Homo sapiens: one gene and its partners. The protein of the gene in region 1 purifies or fractionates together with the protein of each later gene. This does not show direct contact. Each region holds a gene or a part of one and is shown in the gene's direction. Other genes may lie near its edges.

Evidence for each region. The genes of interacting proteins can lie anywhere in the genome.
Region 2: the proteins of P2RX5 (region 1) and PDS5B purify together in Homo sapiens (affinity purification with mass spectrometry; 2 studies listed by BioGRID and IntAct, with this or other methods). This does not show direct contact.
Region 3: the proteins of P2RX5 (region 1) and TMEM131 purify together in Homo sapiens (affinity purification with mass spectrometry; 2 studies listed by BioGRID and IntAct, with this or other methods). This does not show direct contact.
Region 4: the proteins of P2RX5 (region 1) and TTC17 purify together in Homo sapiens (affinity purification with mass spectrometry; 2 studies listed by BioGRID and IntAct, with this or other methods). This does not show direct contact.

The regions. Positions count from the first base shown.
Region 1 is NC_000017.11:3,679,156-3,682,655, reverse strand, and holds part of P2RX5 (P2X purinoceptor 5), read left to right. Parts: intron 1-677; coding exon 678-760; intron 761-2,871; coding exon 2,872-3,066; intron 3,067-3,500.
Region 2 is NC_000013.11:32,771,452-32,774,951, forward strand, and holds part of PDS5B (sister chromatid cohesion protein PDS5 homolog B), read left to right. Parts: intron 1-1,737; coding exon 1,738-1,873; intron 1,874-3,500. UniProt on the Homo sapiens protein: Regulator of sister chromatid cohesion in mitosis which may stabilize cohesin complex association with chromatin. May couple sister chromatid cohesion during mitosis to DNA replication.
Region 3 is NC_000002.12:97,810,949-97,814,448, reverse strand, and holds part of TMEM131 (transmembrane protein 131 precursor), read left to right. Parts: intron 1-60; coding exon 61-214; intron 215-307; coding exon 308-478; intron 479-1,699; coding exon 1,700-1,810; intron 1,811-1,893; coding exon 1,894-2,028; intron 2,029-3,216; coding exon 3,217-3,321; intron 3,322-3,500.
Region 4 is NC_000011.10:43,407,420-43,410,919, forward strand, and holds part of TTC17 (tetratricopeptide repeat protein 17 isoform 1 precursor), read left to right. Parts: coding exon 1-158; intron 159-3,500. UniProt on the Homo sapiens protein: Plays a role in primary ciliogenesis by modulating actin polymerization.

The DNA.
Region 1 (3,500 bases):
TTCTAAATGCCAAAATTCGGGCTGTGGTGCCTCCGCCTCACCTAAAGGATGAGGACCAATGCCTCGGAAACATTCTAAGAAGCCTAACAGGCCAGTCCCCATCCCCTTCTCCAGAAGCGCATCTCCCTCTTCCCGCACAGGCCCTGCGGCATTTCCCAGATGTGACAGGCTTGTTCCTCCCTCCGTAATGTCCTTCCACCTCTTTGTCTTGTATAAACTCCTCTTTAGTCCTTAAGGACTGAATAGGGACCCTCCCCAGGCTGAGTGAAGTCCTATGTGGGTCGTCATCGACACGCCTGTCTCCTGCACCAGAGGGAGAGTCCCCAGGAGGTCTCTCTTGTCCAGATCCTCTCCGTACTTCGGTGCAGACACTGGCACGTGCTGGGTGCCCAGCAAATGTGTTGAAGGAACGATTGGATGGGGTCCGGGTGGTGCGGGGTCGGGGAGTGCCTGGCCTGTGGGATCGGGGGAGCTCCAGTCCAGCTTGAGCTCCACCATGGACCAGCTCTGTGGTGTCGGACAAGGGTGCCCCTTGCTGAGCCCAGTTTCCTCATCTGTTAAATGGGGACAGTGATGCCACCTTTAGGGGCTGTTGCAGGATGGAAGGGGCAAAGTGCCCTAAATGAACAGTGCTCTCAGAGGTCTAGGATTCTGAATCAGGAACCCCTGTTTTGCAGGGTGCTTTCTTCTGCGACCTGGTACTCATCTACCTCATCAAAAAGAGAGAGTTTTACCGTGACAAGAAGTACGAGGAAGTGAGGTCAGTTCCGCTTCCAGGCCGGCGGCCCGAGGGCAGCCCTGTGGAGCACCCCCGTGGCTTCGAGCCTTTGCCCTGATGTGATATTGATGGCTGGGGTGGGAGGCAGGGGCTGGAGGGCCCGGGGAGGAGAAGTGTTCTGAGTACATGCTCTACAGAACCGGATTCGGCCTCGGCAGCAGTGGGAGGAGAGGGCGCTGTGGGCCACAGGGCGGGAGACGGAGTTCACAGGCTCCGCCTGATTCTGGACAAGTCCCAGGCCTCCCCGGGCCTCGGTTTCTCTATCTGGGAGATGAGAGAGTTGGTTTACCAATCGAGTGGTGTCTGCAGCACTTCTGTTTTGGGATTCTTGGACTTGGTGGTCCTGGTGCGCCGGGGCTGAGGGAAGCTGGAGTAGTAAAGGAAAGAAAAGCGGATATTTTCTTCCATGCAGAGGCTGTTTCCGGAGTTTCCTGGGCCCTGGGTTCGGTGGGGTGTGCGTGTTCACAGCGGCAGAGCACAGCGTGGGTGGGGAACCCTGATGACTGTGGGAGGGCGGGAAGGGGAAGGGGCTGTGGCTTCGGCCTTTGGGGAAGGCCTTCTGGAGAAGCAGGGATCAGAATGGGAATTGGGACAGACACCTTAGTACTCCCTCAGCACCCCCACAGCCTGGGACAGTGGGTGCAGGGTCTGCCTGGGTCATTCGCCTTACTGCACTCCAGCTATGGCCTGAACCCCAGCCCTGGGTTATAGCCGTGCGCCCTGACCCTGGCCACAGGCTGAACCCCAACCACAGTCCTGACTGTGCTGCTGAAGGAAGCAGGGTAGAGGAAGCCGGGTGGAGGACGCTGGGTGGAGGATGCAGGGTGGAGGACGCTGGGTGGAGGACGCAGGGTGGAGGATGCAGGGTGGAGGATGCAGGGTGGAGGACACTGGGTGGAGGATGCAGGGTGGAGGACGCTGGGTGGAGGACGCAGGGTGGAGGATGCAGGGTGGAGGATGCAGGGTGGAGGACGCTGGGTGGAGGATGCAGGGTGGAGGACACTGGGTGGAGGACTCAGGGTGGAGGATGCAGGGTGGAGGACGCTGGGTGGAGGATGCAGGGTGGAGGATGCAGGGTGGAGGATGCAGGGTGGAGGACACTGGGTGGAGGATGCAGGGTGGAGGACGCTGGGTGGAGGACGCAGGGTGGAGGATGCAGGGTGGAGGATGCAGGGTGGAGGACCCAGGATGGAGGAAGCAGGGTGGTGGCCTGCAGGGTGGAGGACCCAGGATGGAGGAAGCAGGGTGGTGGCCTGCAGGGTGGAGGACCCAGGATGGAGGAAGCAGGGTAGAGGAAGCCGGGTGGAGGAAGCAGGGTGGAGGACGCCGGGTGGAGGACGCTGGGTGGAGGACGCAGGGTGGAGGATGCAGGGTGGAGGACACTGGGTGGAGGATGCAGGGTGGAGGACACTGGGTGGAGGACTCAGGGTGGAGGATGCAGGGTGGAGGATGCAGGGTGGAGGACGCTGGGTGGAGGATGCAGGGTGGAGGATGCAGGGTGGAGGACGCAGGGTGGAGGACACTGGGTGGAGGACGCAGGGTGGAGGATGCAGGGTGGAGGATGCAGGGTGGAGGACACTGGGTGGAGGATGCAGGGTGGAGGACACTGGGTGGAGGATGCAGGGTGGAGGACGCTGGGTGGAGGACGCAGGGTGGAGGATGCAGGGTGGAGGATGCAGGGTGGAGGACGCAGGGTGGAGGATGCAGGGTGGAGGACACCGGATGGAGGACTCAGGGTGGAGGATGCAGGGTGGAGGATGCAGGGTGGAGGACGCTGGGTGGAGGACGTAGGATGGAGGAAGCCAGGTGGAGGATGCAGGGTGGAGGATGTAGGGTGGAGGGAGCTGGGTGGAGGACTCAGGGTGGAGGACGCCACGTGGAGGAAGCAGGGTGGAGGACTCAGGGTGGAGAGAGCAGGGTGGAGGATGCAGGGTGGAGGGAGCCGCATGGAGGAAGCAGGGTGGAGGACACCGGCTGGAGGAAGCAGGGTGGCGGCCTGCAGGGCGAGGGATTCTTCAAGGCCCACTCCGCCCGTCTAGGAGGGGAGGCACCCTGCAGGGCCGTCCCAGGTGAACAGCTTGTATCTTGTCCAGGGGCCTAGAAGACAGTTCCCAGGAGGCCGAGGACGAGGCATCGGGGCTGGGGCTATCTGAGCAGCTCACATCTGGGCCAGGGCTGCTGGGGATGCCGGAGCAGCAGGAGCTGCAGGAGCCACCCGAGGCGAAGCGTGGAAGCAGCAGTCAGAAGGGGAACGGATCTGTGTGCCCACAGCTCCTGGAGCCCCACAGGTGAGGCCACTGCTAGGCAGAGAGCCCGACAGCTGGGTCCTGCAGAGAGGGGTCCCCAGTTGGGGCTTCTCATGCCTGGCAGCTCCAGCGGACCCCTCTGCTCTGGTGTGAGCTGGCCACAAGGCAGGACATCTAGGAACTGGGAGAGCCTCTGTGGGAAGGGGCTGGTGCTTTACCCCGCAAGGTCCCCCTTAGCTCCCGAGACCCTGGATGGCCATGGGTGCCTGCTGTGCCATGCCGGCGCTCAGATGATAACAGCGCGCTGCTCCACAGCACTGACTCTCTGCCTGGAACCCCTCTGTACTCTCCGTATTTGTTAACTCATGTAAGCAACTGAATCAGATAGACACCGATCTTCCCCATTTTACAAATGAGGAAGCTGAGGCACAGAAAGGCTCGGTAATTTGCTCAAGTCACACAGCCGGTGAATGGCA
Region 2 (3,500 bases), on another chromosome or scaffold:
AGAGTAGCATGTCTTCTATTAGTCAGAAATTTAACACTTTTTCTGAGAGTAATCCCACCCATACATAATTACATCATGGCTCGACTTTTCAGAGTTGCCAATGTACTGTCATTAAATACTCAATTATCTTAGAGATTTTCCTATTCCTGTGTATTCCACAGGAAGAGGAAAAGTTGCCTGGGTGTCTAGCCAGTACTTCATGCCATCTTCCATGTAATTTTTCTATCAGGTTAAAAGTAAAGGTAAGTACATTTTTGTGGCAGCTTTATAAATGTGTTTGGATTCAACCAAATCACTATTTCTAAACAAAGGATTCTTAAGGAATCCTTTATTTAATAAAATACACATGAATGATGTAACAAGGAAATAACAAACCTCATAATTTTAGTTTGTTTATATTTGGACATCATAAAATTCAGGGTTTAAATGATTATTGTGCTCTCCTAAAATTACACAAGTCCTATGAATGTTCTAAACCAAACAAGTATTTCTTAAAAAAAAAAAAAAATTGATATGGAAGAAGATTCTGTAGTCTGTCTTGGAAGCCTATCTTCCTTTCACTGGGAAGCTCTTTCTAGAGCTAGTATACTAACATATGTTAGGATTTGTTTCTTTTTCTTGTTCTGACCTCAGTGAAATTGAAAAAGATTGTCATTATGTTTCATGTTATTTCTATAGTTTCATTAATCTCGAAAAACCAAACCAAGTAAAAAAATTGTTTGGTTCGAGCGTGAGTTAAAAAAATACATATTTTGGATTGCTTATAGAAGTGATGTTATGTTTCTAATTTTAAAAAATAAAGATTTATCAAGAGGGATCCATTTGATTAGATGGTTCTATTACATATTTTTTGATGCCTCCTGTGTTTCAGAGAGTACTAGGTGCTAGGGACACAAAACAGACGTGGTACTTGTTTTCATGGGCTCGTGGTTCTTGTTTTCCACCATCTAATGGAGTGAGGAAGTTTTTTCTTTAAAAGTAACAATGAGTTGATATCTTGAGAATAGTAGGGGCTAGACAGGCAGAGAACAGGTGGCATGAACACTATATTTGAAGTTTCTGAAGTGAAAAATAACTTGGCAAAATCAGAAAGCTAAAGGAAGGCAAGGGTTTGTTGGATTGTAGTTGTGGGGAGTTGGGGAGCAGAAAGAGATGAGAGTGGACAGGTAGGCAAGGACCATCTACTGTTCCTTGTATACTTTGTTAAGGAGGTTTACAAAATTATTCTCAGCTCAGTAGGGAGCAGTAACATCATCTGTTCTTGTACTTTTAAAAGATAACTTTGTAAAGAGAAGAGGCAAGAGATGGGAATGGTTTGAATTAGGTGGTAGCAATGGAGATGTGGAGAGAAGTGAATGGATTTGAGATCTCCATAAGAATCTATAAGGCCAGACAAAGACAGGTACACTATATTCAAAGCAGAATTCCTTTCTGCTTTGAGCAGCTCAGTAGACATAGATGCCTTTTACTGTGTTAGGAAAGATGAAAGGAAGAGCAGACTTTAGGTTATGGTATGTTCTCAGTCACATTTTTTTGTTGTTACTTGGTAGATAATATGTAACATTCTATGATTAAATGCTGGTTTAGGATTCAGAATATTAAAGAAATGTTCTTGTCTCATAAAGTAACTGAGGGTAAAGATGATATGACGATGAAATACGTGAAACATTTCTTCTAACGAGGTAATCTACTGAAAGATTGGAACGTTCATTGTGTTTTACATGTGTTTTACTCTAGCCGTGTAGGACGCTCCAAACAAGCAGCTACTAAGGAAAATGATTCAAGTGAAGAAGTAGATGTGTTTCAGGGTAGCTCTCCTGTCGATGATATTCCACAGGAAGAAACAGAGGAGGAGGAAGTTTCTACAGTAAATGTATGTGTTCAAAGTTTCTGTGAGTGGTGTGGGATATAAAAAGAGTTAGTAAATGTTTGGTTAGATCATTTAGTACTTGTTTAGTATTTATATGTTTTACTTCATTAGTTCATAGCATCATTTTATCTACCAGGTTGGATAATGGAGAACATCTTTTATGGAAACCCGAAACTAAGCAAATAGGTGTAGCTTAATGAGAATGTAAATGTCAAGTCTGAACTGAATGTACAGCATTCTAATATTGACACTTTAAGCATGTAAGTTGTACCTTGATTTTAGGGCACTGATACCCATTAAGTATACTGTTGTTTATATTTTACAACTCTCCGTTTGGTATTTCTATTTGGGTTTCATAATAGAAATTAGAAGTTAGTTACACAGAATAAAATCAGCCTTTGGAATTGAAGTTTGAGCTGAATGAGAATTCATAAAATTGGTAATACATACTTATTTTGCAAAAGTAGGTATGTGTTACTTCCTGACTTTTTTGTTTTTGAGACAGAGTCTCACTCTGTCACCCAGGCTGGAGTATAGTGGCGCACGATCTGGGCTCAGTGCAACCTCTGCCTCCCAGATTCAAGCAATTCTCCTGCCTCAGCTTCCCAAGTAGCTGAGATTACAGGCCAATGCCACTGTGCCCGACTAGTTTTTGTATTTTTAGTGCAGACAGGGTTTTACCATGTTGGTCAGGCTGGTCTCGAACTCTTGACCTCAAGTGATCTGCCTGCTTTGGCCTCCAAAGTGGTGGGATTACAGGCATCAGCCACTGCACCCGGCCCTTCTTGACTTTTAAAGTAATAAATAAATAACTTTACCAGTTAATACAACTCAGATATTTCTCTTAGGAAAAAACATAATACATTTAAGTAGAAGCTCTTCTCCTATCTTTGTTTGAGAAACCCAAGCTCTATAATCAAGTCTCAGAATTGGTCTCTGCTGTTCTGTCCTGTTTAATGGAATCAGAACTCCTATCTGTACCAGGATTCATATTTGTGAATAAGCGAGTTAAGTACACAGGAAAATATGCATAATTGTGACCTCAAATTAGTTTGGCTTGTTTCTTAAAGGGTTTTGGGGAGGACATCAAAGTAAGTCTGAAGAGTCAGTAACGATTGATGTCTTCATCAGAGAAAAACTACATGTAAATTAAAACCCTCTTTTATATTCCTATTGTTAATATTGACATTTTTTGAACTAAAGTTTTATGCTTTCATTAGTGCTTGTCAGCAAATGATAATATGTTTGAATTTTAGGTTATTTTACTGTATTGATAATTGTTAAGATCCAAACTCAGTAACTGCTTTCCCAGAAAGATAATGTAAGTTCATAAATGTGAAATGTTTTCATTTACCACAGGAAACATAAGTAGAAAGATGATTAATCTGTTTGAGTTATTTTTCTTGCTGTAGACATTGACTTCTGTTCATTTCTCTTTAAAATTATTAGATAGAAAAGTAAAATAATTTTTTTCTTTCACTGTTCTGGGGAAGTCTGTGAGCCTGTAAGGGATCAAATGTTATAGAGGTCTAAATATGTGATGCCAGGGCAGAAAGTAAGGATAAAAAGTTTCAGGGAAAGGAAAGCAAAGAAAATCAGGAACAAATGAGAATAAAGATTAGTTAAAAAT
Region 3 (3,500 bases), on another chromosome or scaffold:
TTTAAATTAACACATGGAAATAAAAATGATTTATTTTGTTCTTGTTGTTTTTTTTAATAGTTATTTGGGATTTGATCATGCTGCAACATTATTTCACATCCGAGACAGCCCTGCTGATCCTGTGGAAAGGCCAATTTACCTTACTAACACTTTCAGTTTTGCGATCCTCATTCACGATGTGTTGCTACCAGAAGAAGCCAAAACAATGTTTAAAGTATGTCCAGGAGCCCTCATACTTTTAATTTTCCTGGTCTACCAACTAGGTGATGCTGACACTTTGTTTTTTTTCTCTTCTGTCATTTCTCAGGTTCACAACTTCAGCAAACCAGTCTTAATTCTTCCTAATGAATCAGGATACATTTTTACCCTGCTTTTTATGCCTTCCACATCATCCATGCACATTGATAACAACATTTTACTTATTACCAATGCTTCTAAATTTCATTTACCCGTGCGGGTATACACAGGCTTTTTAGATGTAAGTATATTATCCATCTTTAACATTTAAACTCCCTGCCCACCTTTAATGTTTTCAGATCTTATTAGGCAGTCGTGTTACATACGGTTTGCCATTATTTGTGCTCTGCAAATTGATCTAATTCTCCTAGTCAGTTTTTACCTTTCCAGGTAACTAGTTTTTACCTTTTCTGGCAGCTCTCTCTTGTGATACAGTTGACTTCTCTAGTTACAGTCTCTACTTAGATCTTTTCCACATTCTGCTTTCTCTTGGATATGCTTTTAAACTATTGTAATAATGGGGAATATAGAAAAGAACTAAATAGAAAAATGATAGGTAGAAAAAGAATAATACAAGGAAGGTGAAGAGGGATATACGTAGGGAAGAGATGATCAAAACCAAGAAATATCGGGACAAAGAAGAGAATCAGATAGTAAAGAAGAAAATAAGGTAGTAAAGACGCAAAGTTGGAAGATTATATATGACACAGAAGGAAACAATGAAGGTACTCCTGGTACAGAAAATAAGCAGGGGGAAAAATTCCAAACAAAGCTATCTTGAGAGTGATCAATGAAAGAAGCTTAGATAAGAGAGAAAACTGTTAGGAAAGATAAAAAGAAAGCTAGGACATCTAGAAATGTAGCCCTTTAAATAGTTGGCATCGATTAGAATTTTAGAGCTGGAGGGACCTTCAGTAATGTCTCGCTCCTGCTTCAGTTATTTTGTTTCAGTGATCATTGGTGATGCTTGCTGAGACCACATGCTTTTTGCCCGATCCCCTAGGGTTCCACTAAACCTCTCTTAGTAGTTTAGCTTCCTGCCTCTTTCATGTGCCCTCAGAGGAAGAATAGCAACTCAGCAGAAGCCATGGCTGTTTTCATTTCTGATTACTCAAAAGACTTTCGTCATACAAAGCCCTCAACTATGTCGTATAAATGTGTGGTTTTATGCATATATACAAAAGCATAGGAAAGCATAGAACTGTAATTTTTTTTTTTTTTAGATGGAGTCTCGCTGTGTTTCCCAAGCTGGAGTGCAGTGGTGCAATCTTGGCTTGCGGGTTCAAGCGATTCTCCTGCCTGAGCTCAGCCTTCCGAGTAGCTGGGATTATAGGTGCACACCACCATGCCCAGCTAATTTTGGGGGGAACTTTAATACATCTTTAATATAGTTACTTTCTCTTCATAATATTGTTAGATCAATGTGACTTTTTTTTAATCTGGTTCTTTTATATCTTTCCAGTACTTTGTATTGCCCCCCAAAATAGAGGAACGTTTCATAGATTTTGGAGTACTGAGTGCTACAGAAGCAAGTAATATTTTATTTGCAATTATAAACAGCAATCCAATTGAGGTAAAAACCTGTTTTTATTCTAAATCACATTTAAGGATTTTATGCTTGTGTTGTGATAATCATTTTCATATCTTTTTTTAAAGTTGGCTATAAAAAGTTGGCATATCATAGGAGACGGTTTATCAATAGAACTTGTAGCTGTGGAAAGAGGCAATAGAACTACAATAATTTCAAGCCTGCCAGAGTTTGAAAAATCCTCTTTATCAGATCAATCATCGGTAAGTAAACTTTCTATTGTCTCCTTAAAGTAAGATGGATGTCTAAACTGCAAGTGGAAGATCATTGCTATGCTACATGTATCACTATTATTTTTATGCAGTTCATAATAGTGTTGGTTACTTGCTATTAAAAGGACCTTATAGGTAATGTAATTCAACCCCCTATTTTTATGATGAGGGCACTGAAACCCAAAGGGGTTTAATTCTGCCTTGTCATAAAAAGTTCTATAACACACAAATTTTTAATTATCTTTTTGTAACACAAGTGTCATTACAGGAGAGATTCCCATGGGTACTAAACTAACCTTGTGTTCATTGAGTTTACTGGGAAAAAGAGATGGCCCTGAACATTGGTAGAAAATATTTTCAATTATGCAATAATACGTCTGTCCAGATACTGCCTCAGTATCAGTGAGGCAAACATTGTTTGATCACTGTGAGTCTGCCCACATATTTTTACCTGTCTAATAAACATGTTACAGTTGGTTGTCAGAGAGCGCTAAACAAGAGAAAACAAATTTATTAGTTTCAGCACTCACCAGTACTGAAAGGGGAACTTGGAGTTTATACCTACTGGGAAAAGAATTAGAATCACAATCTGTGAGAAGGAGCATCAGATAATCTCATCTGCAGGTTAGAATAGAATTTCTTGGGGCAGTTTTACAAAAGGAAAAGCAAGTGTCCTTATACACAGAGAGTGTTGACAAACACGTTTCCGTGGAATGCCATAGGTCTGGTGTTTTGTTATATCTGACCTCAGCTGCCCTGAAGATATGAATATTAACATTACAGAGTGACATCCACAGCTTGAAGCAGAGCCAGCTGTGTATACAATTGTGGCTCCAGTGTGCCTGAAAGGTTGGTGGAAGGCTGTGTCCCTCTGCTCCAGCCCCTTTGGCCATACAGGTCCATGGGTAAAGAGTGAGGAGCTTTATTAGCAAGAGGACCACACCCCTCCCTCTTTCAGGAACCAGCTTTTTCAGTGGCCCATGGAACAAGTGTAGTAGAGAAATATCAAGGGATGGACACTATTTTGAGATATTTGTACACAGTGATATGGTAATTCAGTGTCATACTGGTATATGTTAGGATTTGTTAGTCATTTTATCGCTACACCCTTCATGTCCATTTTAATAGGAAACTTCAACTAACAAGGCTAATGAATGATACCATTTCTACTATCTACAGGTAACATTAGCTTCAGGCTATTTTGCAGTCTTCAGAGTCAAACTTACTGCAAAAAAATTAGAGGGGATTCATGATGGAGCCATCCAGATCACAACAGACTATGAGGTAAGGACTTTATGGGGATTCATGGCAGTGGGGTTTTTCTGAATAAGTCAGTCCTTTCTTGTCTTTATGAAACCAAAGAATTAAGTTTACTCAGAGTTACAGTTTACCAGTTTCATACCTTAAAAACTGAGCTTTCGAGAATAGTTTATAGAATATTGATGTTCATAGGCTCATAGTTT
Region 4 (3,500 bases), on another chromosome or scaffold:
CTTTTGCTATTGCCTGTCTTCAGAGGGCTTTGAATTTAGCTCCACTTCAATACCAAGATGTTCCTCTTGTCAACTTGGCCAACCTTTTGATTCATTACGGCCTTCATCTTGATGCCACTAAGCTGCTACTTCAAGCTTTGGCCATCAATAGCTCTGAGGTGAGGTTTTAAGGGATTTCATAGTTCCGTATACTATGTAGGGTAACTCAAATTTAGATTACAATTTGTATTTTTCTAGGGAAAGCATAAAAAATGTCATGTTTTGTCTTTCACAGTAGCGTTTGCATTATTTCAAGAGAGTGTGAAAAAGCTTTTGTTGTATTTTGATGTGTTCTTTAAATTTTGAGTGAAATTTATAATTACACAGTTAAGTTTTTTTTTTTTTGGAAACTTACATTTAAATAAGAATAACATAAGCTGTAAAAATATACTGCCGCTTTTTTATGTCTGTCTGAAACATCTGGTTTGTATTTTATCCTACTCATCACAGCATGCACACTGCTTAATATTACACTGTTTTACAACTTTAATTTATAGAAATATTTATACCCTTCAAGCCAGAGGACAGTTCAAAGGTGGTTTTGATAAGAATAAATAGATACATTGATTTTCATGCCCCAAACCTCTCACATGCAGCTTATGGAGTTACATCAGTGCTTTGTAGTTCATGGTTTTGAAGATACAACTTTGGTTTTTCATATTTTAACATCTCTGATATCAGGATGGATGTTATAATTGCTGTCATTTTAGGTTTCATGAAATTCAGTTATAATAAATATACAATTAAATTGATTTTATACCTAATGTCTAAATGTTTATAGGTTTTGTATTCAAAGAAACCTTCAGAAGGGATGTGCATGAATGGTTGAGGTTTATTTATGGTGTCTGAAAACTGATTTTTTAAGGATGAGAAGAAAATATTGCCTGTTTTCTTTTGAAATACAGAAATTCACAACTGGATTTTAAGCAGAAGTTTACAATCTCAATATTATGTAACAGGTCACATTGCCAGAGAAGTACATCAAATATTTATCTAGTGCTTACTGTGTACCAGGTGCTGGTACAGTGGGAACAGATGTGATAAAGTGGGCAATGGAAAGCGCAATGCAGCCGTATTCCCTTGAAACTTTTCATGATTCCCTTTTTACTGTTTTCAGCCAAGGGACTTAGGTAGTATTCTTCTGAAGAAAAAAGACCTCCTTTAGTGATCAGTTACCTTTTGATATTTTAAAATCATACTAAAATTTTAGTTGTTAAATACCATGGTGCTACAATAAGAATAAAAAGATAAATTAATGGATCAGGGTGGGTACCCCAAAAATATACCTTTTTTTTTTCTTTGAGACAGGTTCTTGCTCTGTTGCCCAGGCTGGAGTGCAGTGGCGTGGTCACGGCTCACTGCAGCCTCCACCTCCTAGGCTCAAGTAGTGCACCCACCTCAGCCTCCCTAGTAGCTGGGACTACAGGCATGCACCACTGCGTATGGCTGAATTTTGTATTTTTTTGTAGAGATGGGGTTTCACCATGTTGCCAAGGCTGGTCTTGAACACCCGAGCTCAAGCAATCCTCCCATCTCAGCCTCCAAAAGTGATGGGATTACAGGCATGCACCACCACACCCGGCCCCAAAAATGTTCCTTAATCAGCACCCTCTTCCCAACTTTTGGAAATTTTTCCTTATAAGCATGTCTTCTATACAAATATTTCATAATGTTTCAACTCTACTGTACAGGTGATCTCTAAAAAACTTATTCCTACCTAATTTTAAAGCCCTCAATTTAAATGGTTGTATAAAGGACCAATGAATTGATATGCCACAACCTATTTTTCTGTTGCTGCATATTTAGGTTGCTAACAGTACTTAGCTATTATCAATGATGGTTTTCTGCAAAGGCCTTAAAGATTGTTAGCAGTGGAATTACTAAGTCAATAAGAGAATGAATATTTTGATGGCTCTGGCACAAAATACCAAACAACCCACTAAAATGGTTGGGCCAGTATATATTGCCATGAATAAGGTCTAAAAATATTAATTCCACCTGTGTCTTTATTAGAATTGAACAACTGAAATAACTGCCAATTTTTTTGATTGTTTACTAGAGCCAGGCACAATACTAAGCATCTTACATGTAGTAACTAATTTAATCCTCATAACAACCCTGTGAGATGGAATTTCCCCTTTGATAGATGAGGAAACTCTTAAGAGTTAAATGTACAGAGTAAGGGATTTATGGGAAGTCACAGAGCTTGGTGCTTGGTTTTGAACTCAGGGAGATTGGCCACAGGGCAAATACTCTAGTCGTGTTATACTACCTCTGAATTAACATTTATAAAACAAGTTTCGCTTGCTTAAAAATACCACCTCTCCGTTGTAACGTAAAGTTTTATCTTGTGGTTGTTTTTGTTTTTCTTTTTTCCTTTTTTCTTTTCTTTTTTTTTTTTGAGACAAAATCTTGCTCTGTCACCCAGGCTGTAGTGCAGTGACATGATCTCAGCTCACTGCAAGCTTCGCCACCCAGGTTCAAGCTCTTCTCGTGCCTCAGACTCTGGAGTAGTTGGGATTTCAGGTGCATACCACCATGCCCGGCTAATTTTTGTACTTTTAGTAGAAACAGGGTTGTATTTTAATAGAAACATGTTGGCCAGGCTGGTCTCAAACTCCTGACCTCAAGTGATCCGCCCGCCTTGACCTCCCAAAGTGCTGGGATTACAGGTGTGAGCCCTTATGCCCAACCTTGTAATTGTATTTTTAAAGTAAAAGTTTGTATACACATTTTGTTCATTTTAGAATTTTGTTTTTTAGATTTTGTGCAAACCCTTTGTATGATAAACTCTTTAACTCCATCTCTCATGTGTTAAAAATATTTTCTCTCTTTGCCTTTTTATCTTAGCATTTAAAAATTGCCCTTAAGTTTGCCAGTCTTTTCAATGTTGATTTCTATTGTTAGATTTCAAGTGTTCTCAATAAACTGTTTGTTTTTGTTTTCTATGGCTTAATCTTTGAATAGTTGGCTCTCAAATATATAAAGATCTTTTCCTGTGACGTCTCCTGGATATTTTATAGTTTTAGGCTTTACAATTAGGTCTATGATTCATTTCAAGTTAAATTTTCTTTGTAGTGTGAGGTAGGGATCAAAGTTCATATTTACACGGATATCCAGTTCTTCAGCTTCATATCTTGAGAAGACTGCCCTTTTCCTGTTGAATTACCCGTCACCTTTGCCCTGAACTCCAGACTCCTTTATTCAACAGCTTACTTGACATTTCCACTTAGATGTCTAAAGGGCGCTCTAGAACAAAAGGCCAAAACCAAACTCCTTAACGCTGTTCCAAATTTATTCTTCCCAGTCTTCCTCATTTCAGGAAATAATAAAGCTATCTTTCCAGTTGCTCAGACCAAAAACTTAGGGGCTTCCTTCATACCTTTCTCCTGTTCTCAGGGAAAATTCAGTCCACTGGCTAACCTTGTTGATTCTGTTTTCAAAATATACCTCAGATTTTA